2 linked regions of the Homo sapiens genome follow. The protein of the gene in region 2 purifies or fractionates together with the protein of the main gene of each other region. This does not show direct contact. Each region holds a gene or a part of one and is shown on either strand. Other genes may lie near its edges.

Evidence for each region.
Region 1: the proteins of PHF20L1 (region 2) and LIN9 purify together in Homo sapiens (affinity purification with mass spectrometry; 2 studies listed by BioGRID and IntAct, with this or other methods). This does not show direct contact.

What each region holds. Positions count from the first base shown.
Region 1 is NC_000001.11:226,230,570-226,233,834, reverse strand, and holds the end of LIN9 (protein lin-9 homolog), read left to right. Parts: intron 1-311; coding exon 312-491; intron 492-641; coding exon 642-739; intron 740-1,228; coding exon 1,229-1,334; 3' UTR 1,335-2,678; downstream 2,679-3,265. UniProt on the Homo sapiens protein: Acts as a tumor suppressor. Inhibits DNA synthesis. Its ability to inhibit oncogenic transformation is mediated through its association with RB1. Plays a role in the expression of genes required for the G1/S transition.
Region 2 is NC_000008.11:132,840,934-132,844,944, forward strand, and holds part of PHF20L1 (PHD finger protein 20-like protein 1), read left to right. Parts: intron 1-1,581; coding exon 1,582-1,942; intron 1,943-3,219; coding exon of another isoform or gene 3,220-3,222; coding exon 3,223-3,385; intron 3,386-4,011.

The sequences.
Region 1 (3,265 bases), on a different chromosome or scaffold from region 2:
ATTCACAGAGATCAAATGGCAGATCAAATGTAGTAAAACATAAACAGTAAATCTGAGTAAATGTTATCAAGAGTTCTTTGTTTTATTCTTTTAACTTTTTTTAGAAGTTTGAAATTATATCAAAATTAAAAATTACAAAAAATAGAAAATCAGAAACTGTTAAAGGAAAAAAACTTCTAAGGTAAGAGTACCACTTTAGTTTTAAATGCTAGTTTTATAAAAATTAAAATCTGAAAAGAGGGCACAAACACATACAGAAATAATCATGGCTTCTCGAACATGCGTCTCATGCTTCAATCATCTGTATTCAGCTTGCTCCAGACCAGGGGCTCCAGCCTGCAGATCAGCCAACAGATATGAGACGCAGGTGTGAGGAAGAAGCACAGGAAATTGTTCGGCATGCAAATTCCTCAACAGGACAGCCCTGCGTTGAAAATGAAAATCTGACAGACTTAATTTCCAGGCTTACAGCTATTTTGTTACAAATTAAGGTAAATCTTAGAGAAAATATTTTCTTAATTTGACACAAAGCAACCCACGCTAATTTGTTGCTAAGAAATTAATTCATTGATTATATCAGGTATTTTATGACTATATTTGAGCTATAATGCAATTAAATTTTGAAATTTTTTTCCCTTTAGTGTCTAGCAGAAGGAGGAGACCTGAATTCCTTTGAATTCAAATCACTTACAGACTCATTAAATGATATCAAGAGTACAATAGACGCTTCTAATATCAGGTAATTCGTTAGGTATACTCTAATCATTTTAATGTGAAGTTCATAGTAATTTTCAGTCCAGGTTTTAAGAATTATGCATATTTGTGAAGTACTCATATATTATTATCCGTTAAATATATTTGTAAGAGCTTTTCACTTATATCCAGCCTATGGACAGAATAGAAATTTCACATGGATTTTGTATATAAAGAAATCAGGACATATATTTAGGTTTGGGGTCAGCATGGAGGTTGAGCTTAGAGGTAGAGCTTCCCCAGTCAGTGAGAGACTCATCTTCTCCTTCCAGCCCCCCGTGGCTCCTTTGCTTCTTTAGAGCATATTTGTTCAACTACTACTGAAGTAGAATTATGGCTAATATATTAGAGGAGATTTATTCCTTCCCTAAGATTTATCATAGCTGTTTCCTAACTAAAATTCAGGTCTTCTTTTAAAAATTTTTTTCTTAATTTTTTGAAATAAAGTAGTTAACCATGTTTCTTCTTTCTTTAGTTGCTTTCAGAATAATGTAGAAATCCATGTTGCACATATTCAGAGTGGCCTGAGCCAGATGGGAAACTTACATGCCTTTGCAGCAAATAACACCAACAGAGACTGAGTAAAGATTTCATTATTCCAACTGCACGGGACATTGTTTTTGAGAAGTTCTTTTCCTTTATATAGGCTTCCAACACCAAATAACCTAACTGCTGGAAAACAAGGGAAATTTAAATCTCCAAATAAGGCATTTTAATAGACTGTACTGCTTCTTAAACCAGCATTGCTGACCAGCATTATATTTATTTTTCTTTTATTATTCAGATGCAGTAGCATTGCTTATGTTACATATGTTTATATTCACAAATATTTTTAAACTGAAATATCTGAACATAATATAATTTCGTGGAAGAATACATTGACCATTTTTTTTAATGTGCATGAATTCACCGCAACACATGCAGACAACTGCTGCAATGGAGAGTATGAAGAAACCTGGTCTTTTTATTCATGTCGGTGGCAGTGTGGAAATTCCATCCAGAAAATTACAACTCCACTTGATTTAGTTGATCACCATCTCAGTCTTCAAAAGATAACATCATGAGGTGTGGGAAGTCCTAGTTTTAAGGAAACCACTGAAATATAGATGGGAAATGTGGACTTTACAAGTATATGTTATATATACTTGCAATGTGACATGGTTCTGTAGATCATTTTATAATAATAAATATTTTAATTTATCATAACATATAAAAGAAACCTTTGTTGTTTGTTGAAAGAAAATGAAGGAACAGGGGGAAAAAAGGTGCAAAATGCTAAATTTCTAAAAATGGATTTGGCATGTCTTCCCATCAGTTCAGGTCAAAAGTGCATTGTTGTGAGATTTATTAAAAAAAAAATGATAACACACTATTTTCATATTTTTTTGTTTATTTGCACAACTTTTAAACCAGATTACTGGTTAAAATCCAACAGTACACAATTTATAAAGTAAAAAGATTTTATAAGGAAAACAAATATAATAACCAGTGCTGTGAAATGCAGAAGAAAGGCTTGTTTTGGTTGTTTTTCTTTTTTAGGAAAACGCTGCCTAAAATGTTAATCTTGTAAAAAGTATGTATTTGGAATTTTCTTCGTTTTAATAGAATATTATAAACTCAAAATATAAATTTTTTTCAAATTTGGAGTTTAAGATATAGCTGTAGAGGTGGTTTTAATTCCTTTAGATGTCTCATAAAATGAGACTTTTTATATGTTAATGTATAATAAAACTGAAACAAGATTATTTTCCATTTGAAATTTTTGTATAGTTTAAAAAGGCTTCCGTATTCTTTGTTGGTATTGTGCCACTGCAGAACTTTAGTGCAGAGTTTATATTTAGCTAAACTGTTATGTTAATTAAGAAATGCATAAATCTTCTATTCTTAATATTTGTAATTCTAAATAAATTGATCTATGAAAATTATTATTTTCTATATTTTCATTTAATTCAAGTCAATATGCATTCCTTCTGTTTAAAAAGTTTTGAAGAATTGTAATTTCCATTAAGTTATATTTTTAGGGGAAACAGTACAGATTACCGAGTCTCTCTGAAGTACCATACCATCCAATGGTATGGATTTTATTTATTACCATACCATACCATCCAGTGATACGGATTTTATTTATTACCATACCATCCAGTGGTATGGTATTAAGCAGGTAAGTTATTTGGCCTGGTATAGACCTAGTGAAAGGTTGATTTTAATATATTCTGCCTAGAATTGGGTATTTTGTGCATTTTTTCTTTTACATTTCTTTTTTTTTTTCTCTGTCGCCCAGGCTGGAGTGCAGTGATGCAATCTCAGCTCACCACAACCTCCAGGTCTTGGGTTCAAGGGATTCTTCCACCTCAGCCTCCTGAGTAGCTGGGATTACAGGCACGCGCCACCACGCCTGGCTAATTTTTGTATTTTTAGTAGAAACAGAGTTTCACCGTATTGGTCAGGCTGGTCTCGAACTCCCAACCTCAAGTGATCCACCTGCCTCAGCCTCCCAAAGTGCTGGGATTAC
Region 2 (4,011 bases):
TTTGTTGAATAAAATTTGCTTCAGTTTTTTATCATAAGCCTGAATATGAATTTGTTTTTTAAAAGGCCATGTAAGTGCTAAGACTTAAGGGAGGGAATAATTTATTAGGTCTTTTTTTAAAACCTTATTTCCTTCTTGGTATCAGTATGAGTTTCTCTGCATTCATAATTTTGCCAAGGATTTTAATTGGCCCTTTCTGTTTCATATACTTATAGGCCCTCTTTATGTTAATATTTTAAATCATAATATCTGTTAGTATGTACGATTTATTGAAAGTCCTACACGTCATGTGCTTTCATGTGATATTTCATTTAATCCTTATCATAAGCTACCTCATTTCATTGTTGGGTAGTGAAAGAGATTTTGTAACTTGTTCAGGCTTCTCTATGGCACAGCAGAATTCAACCCCTTGGACTATTGGACTGCAGTGCCAGCTTTTCTTCTACTATGCCTTTTACTGATTGAGTGTTTTAGTATTTTCTGAATATTAAACTACTAGGGATTCAAATGATAAAATTTATAATTTCAGAAACAATACTTGAGTATTATTGGAAGAGAACTAATTTGACTCAGTATGTATCTAATTTGGAAATTATTAATATGCAAACATTATTGAGCCTTTTGAAAGGTTTATATCTCCCGAATGCCCTTTCACTTCAGCTCTGATGATTGGATTCCTGTTTTACTTACTGCAGAATTAACTGTACAATATCATGCTTACATGTTCAGTGAGGATGAAGTAAATGGGCATTATCAAAGATTGTTGATGGGGTTGTAATTAGTATAATCCCTTTTGAGGTCACTTGGGTAGTACCTATCAAAATAAATGTGCATGTTATCCAGCAATCCCATATCTAGAAATTTATCTGACTGAAATATTCTGACTTGTGTGCAAAGACACACACAGGTACACAAACATATAATGGTAGGGAATTGGTTGGCTCGACTGGTACATTTGTAACTCTTCAGCCCTAGAGTAAAAGTAAGGGAAATCTATCTGTATGACATGATATGGCAAGATGCCCCTAGCATGTTACGTACAAAAAGGCAGATTGTATGTGTCCTGGATGTGTCACAAGAAGATGTGTATACTTATCCATTTAAGAACTAATTTTAGGTATACAGAAAAAGTCTGGAAGATTATACCTCAGTTATTTATGTTTGCCATGGGAGAGGAAATTTTTACTTTCTGTGCATTTATATTTAGGATTTTTGTCATCAGGAGTTATCACTTTTTGACTGAATAAAAGTTTTTAAAATATGCTCACATTAAAGTTTTTCAAATTTTACAATGAAAATGACAATGACAAATCAGTAGAAAAAGAAATGCATGTATCAAATGATGATGTGAACTATCAACACAATTAAATTTGTTATTGCTTTTCTGAGTATTATTTCTTTAATTGAGAAGATTCAAATTTTGGATGAAATCATGGAGGGAGTTAATTTAAAGATTACCTTTGCTTTTGTCTTGAGTCCTAGATGTCCTCCTAACCTAATTCTGAAATAGATCATTGTATTCAGCTTGTTAATAGATTTTTTTTTTTTTCTGAACTGCTGTTTTTCCAACTTTGTTTTAAGGAATAAACATCATCCTGACCTTCATCTCTGGGCTTGTTCCGGGAAGCGAAAAGACCAAGATCAAATAATAGCTGGGGTGGAGAAAAAAATAGCTCAAGACACAGTTAATCGAGAAGAAAAGAAATATGTACAGAACCATAAAGAACCACCTCGTTTGCCCCTAAAAATGGAAGGAACTTATATAACAAGTGAGCATAGCTATCAAAAGCCACAAAGTTTTGGTCAGGACTGTAAATCTCTCGCAGACCCTGGGAGCTCAGATGATGATGATGTTAGTAGTTTGGAAGAAGAACAAGAATTCCACATGAGAAGTAAAAACAGTTTACAGTACTCAGCAAAAGAACATGGAATGCCTGAAAAGGTAAAACTAGTTCATTTTTCTTTGCTTGGAAACTATGAGAGAAGAACAAAGGAAAATTTTATAAAATAAGGCATACTGAATTCCCAGATTTTAGTTGTATTTCCAAGTTCCCCAGTACCTTGTTAAAGTAAGGAGATTTTTTTGTTTTCTCTACAGGAAAACACTGGCCATTTGAACATTTGATTATCTCCTAATTCAGAATTGTAGTAATTCAATAAACTGTTACTCTAACAAAAGTTTCAATTGTATAAGTACATTTCGATGCTTCTAAAAAATGAACCACATTGTATTCAAAACGAAAATGTCAGTGTGTAAGAATGTGAAAGTACATATGGGTGTAATGATTTGTCTTCCTCTTTATGTGAGTTAGATAAAAGGTGGCACTCTAATTGTCTGTTTAAAAAATTTTAGCATGTTTGTCAATGCATCCCACTATTCAGTAAGGTGAATTCTGACAGATCTATGTGCATTGGACATCTATAAACTTATTTCCTGTTCACTGGGATTATCTTAGAAATGTACCTTTATTTTTTACTGATTTTCAATTAATGAGGCCACTTTAAAATTAGATGTTTTTTTTCTGCATTCCTTAACAAGTAATTACCATAAATAAGTACTTAAGTGAATTGGAACGTTTGTATTTCGTATCATAAAGTTTGTGGTAAGTTATTTTGTTTAATTAATATCCCATGTGCAAAATGAGTTATCTCTGGCAAATCCAAACGCACATTGTGTGTGTGTGTGTGTGTGTGTGTGTGTGTGTGAAGCAGTTTGTACTTTTGAAACTTGTAAAAGGTTTTTGCCTTTCCCTCCCTTCATTGATTTACTGTACTATAACAGTAAAGTCCAGTCTGTAGTTAATTAGATTTTATACTGGTCTTTGGAAACGCTCTTGATTTCTTTTCATCATTGCTTTCCACTCTTATGTCCACTTATATCACCAGCTGAGATTAATTGAGGAAGAGGCCAGTCTAAATTAATCAGGAATTCTAATTACACAATAGAATTAGTGACTTCATTTATTTAGCGCATTTTATTGAAGCCTTCTTGCCTGTGTAGCACCATGCGAGGCATAGTGGAGGGAGGTGGTGGGTGCATCAGCTCTTAAGAACCACCAGCTGGAATTTGGTTATGTAGCAGTACTTCTTTAAAGATACCCCTGGAGTCAGATTGGATCTCACTAACTGTTACCAGTGATGAGGTGTTTCCTGTATCCTTAACTCAATGACTGCATTTCATCCCGTTCTTTGTGTTTATTTTCCAATGGTCCTTTGGAGAAGAATCCAGCTGAAGGGAATACAGTATTTGTTTATAATGATAAAAAGGGCACCGAAGACCCAGGAGACTCACATCTTCAGTGGCAGCTCAATCTCCTTACACACATAGAAAATGTGCAGAACGAAGTTACCAGCAGGATGGACCTAATAGAAAAAGAAGTCGATGGTAATTTAAGAAAGAACTAAAATACAGTTACTATAGTGAATTTATTGTTACTATGAAGAAGTTACTTAAAATTCTTAAATTATGGGATGAAAACTGCAGATACTCTCCATACCGATGGGGCTTTATTACTCCCTTTGTATTGTATTTAACACATTTGGGATCTTTTACGCTTAAAACAATGTGACCGGGTATGACCTTAGGTTGTTTTTACTTTTTTAAGGTGGATATTTATTAAATACTGTCTATTTGCCAGGCTCCAGATAGATCACTTATGGAATAAATTGATTAGTTTCATTGAACTAAGCTTTCTTTGGAAGTCAACATAAGGAATTTAAGCATGTTTGAAATGTGAAAACATTTTGAATATTTTTTACTTTGGTTAGCACTTGTTAAATTAACAAAAACTTCTACAAAGTTAAGTAGGTAAACCTTAAGTGGTTTTCTTTTATATTTTAAAATTGTGTCATCACACAGGAGGCCTGAAAAGTGGGCAAGAAAGATACTATCACTACTTTATAGTTGAGAAACTAGAGTAACTTAGACTACCTGATTCTCAGTCCATGTTGTTCTTAATGCTTTCTGACTCCTGTTTCTTCCTAACATCATAGACGATATTCTGCACCCCA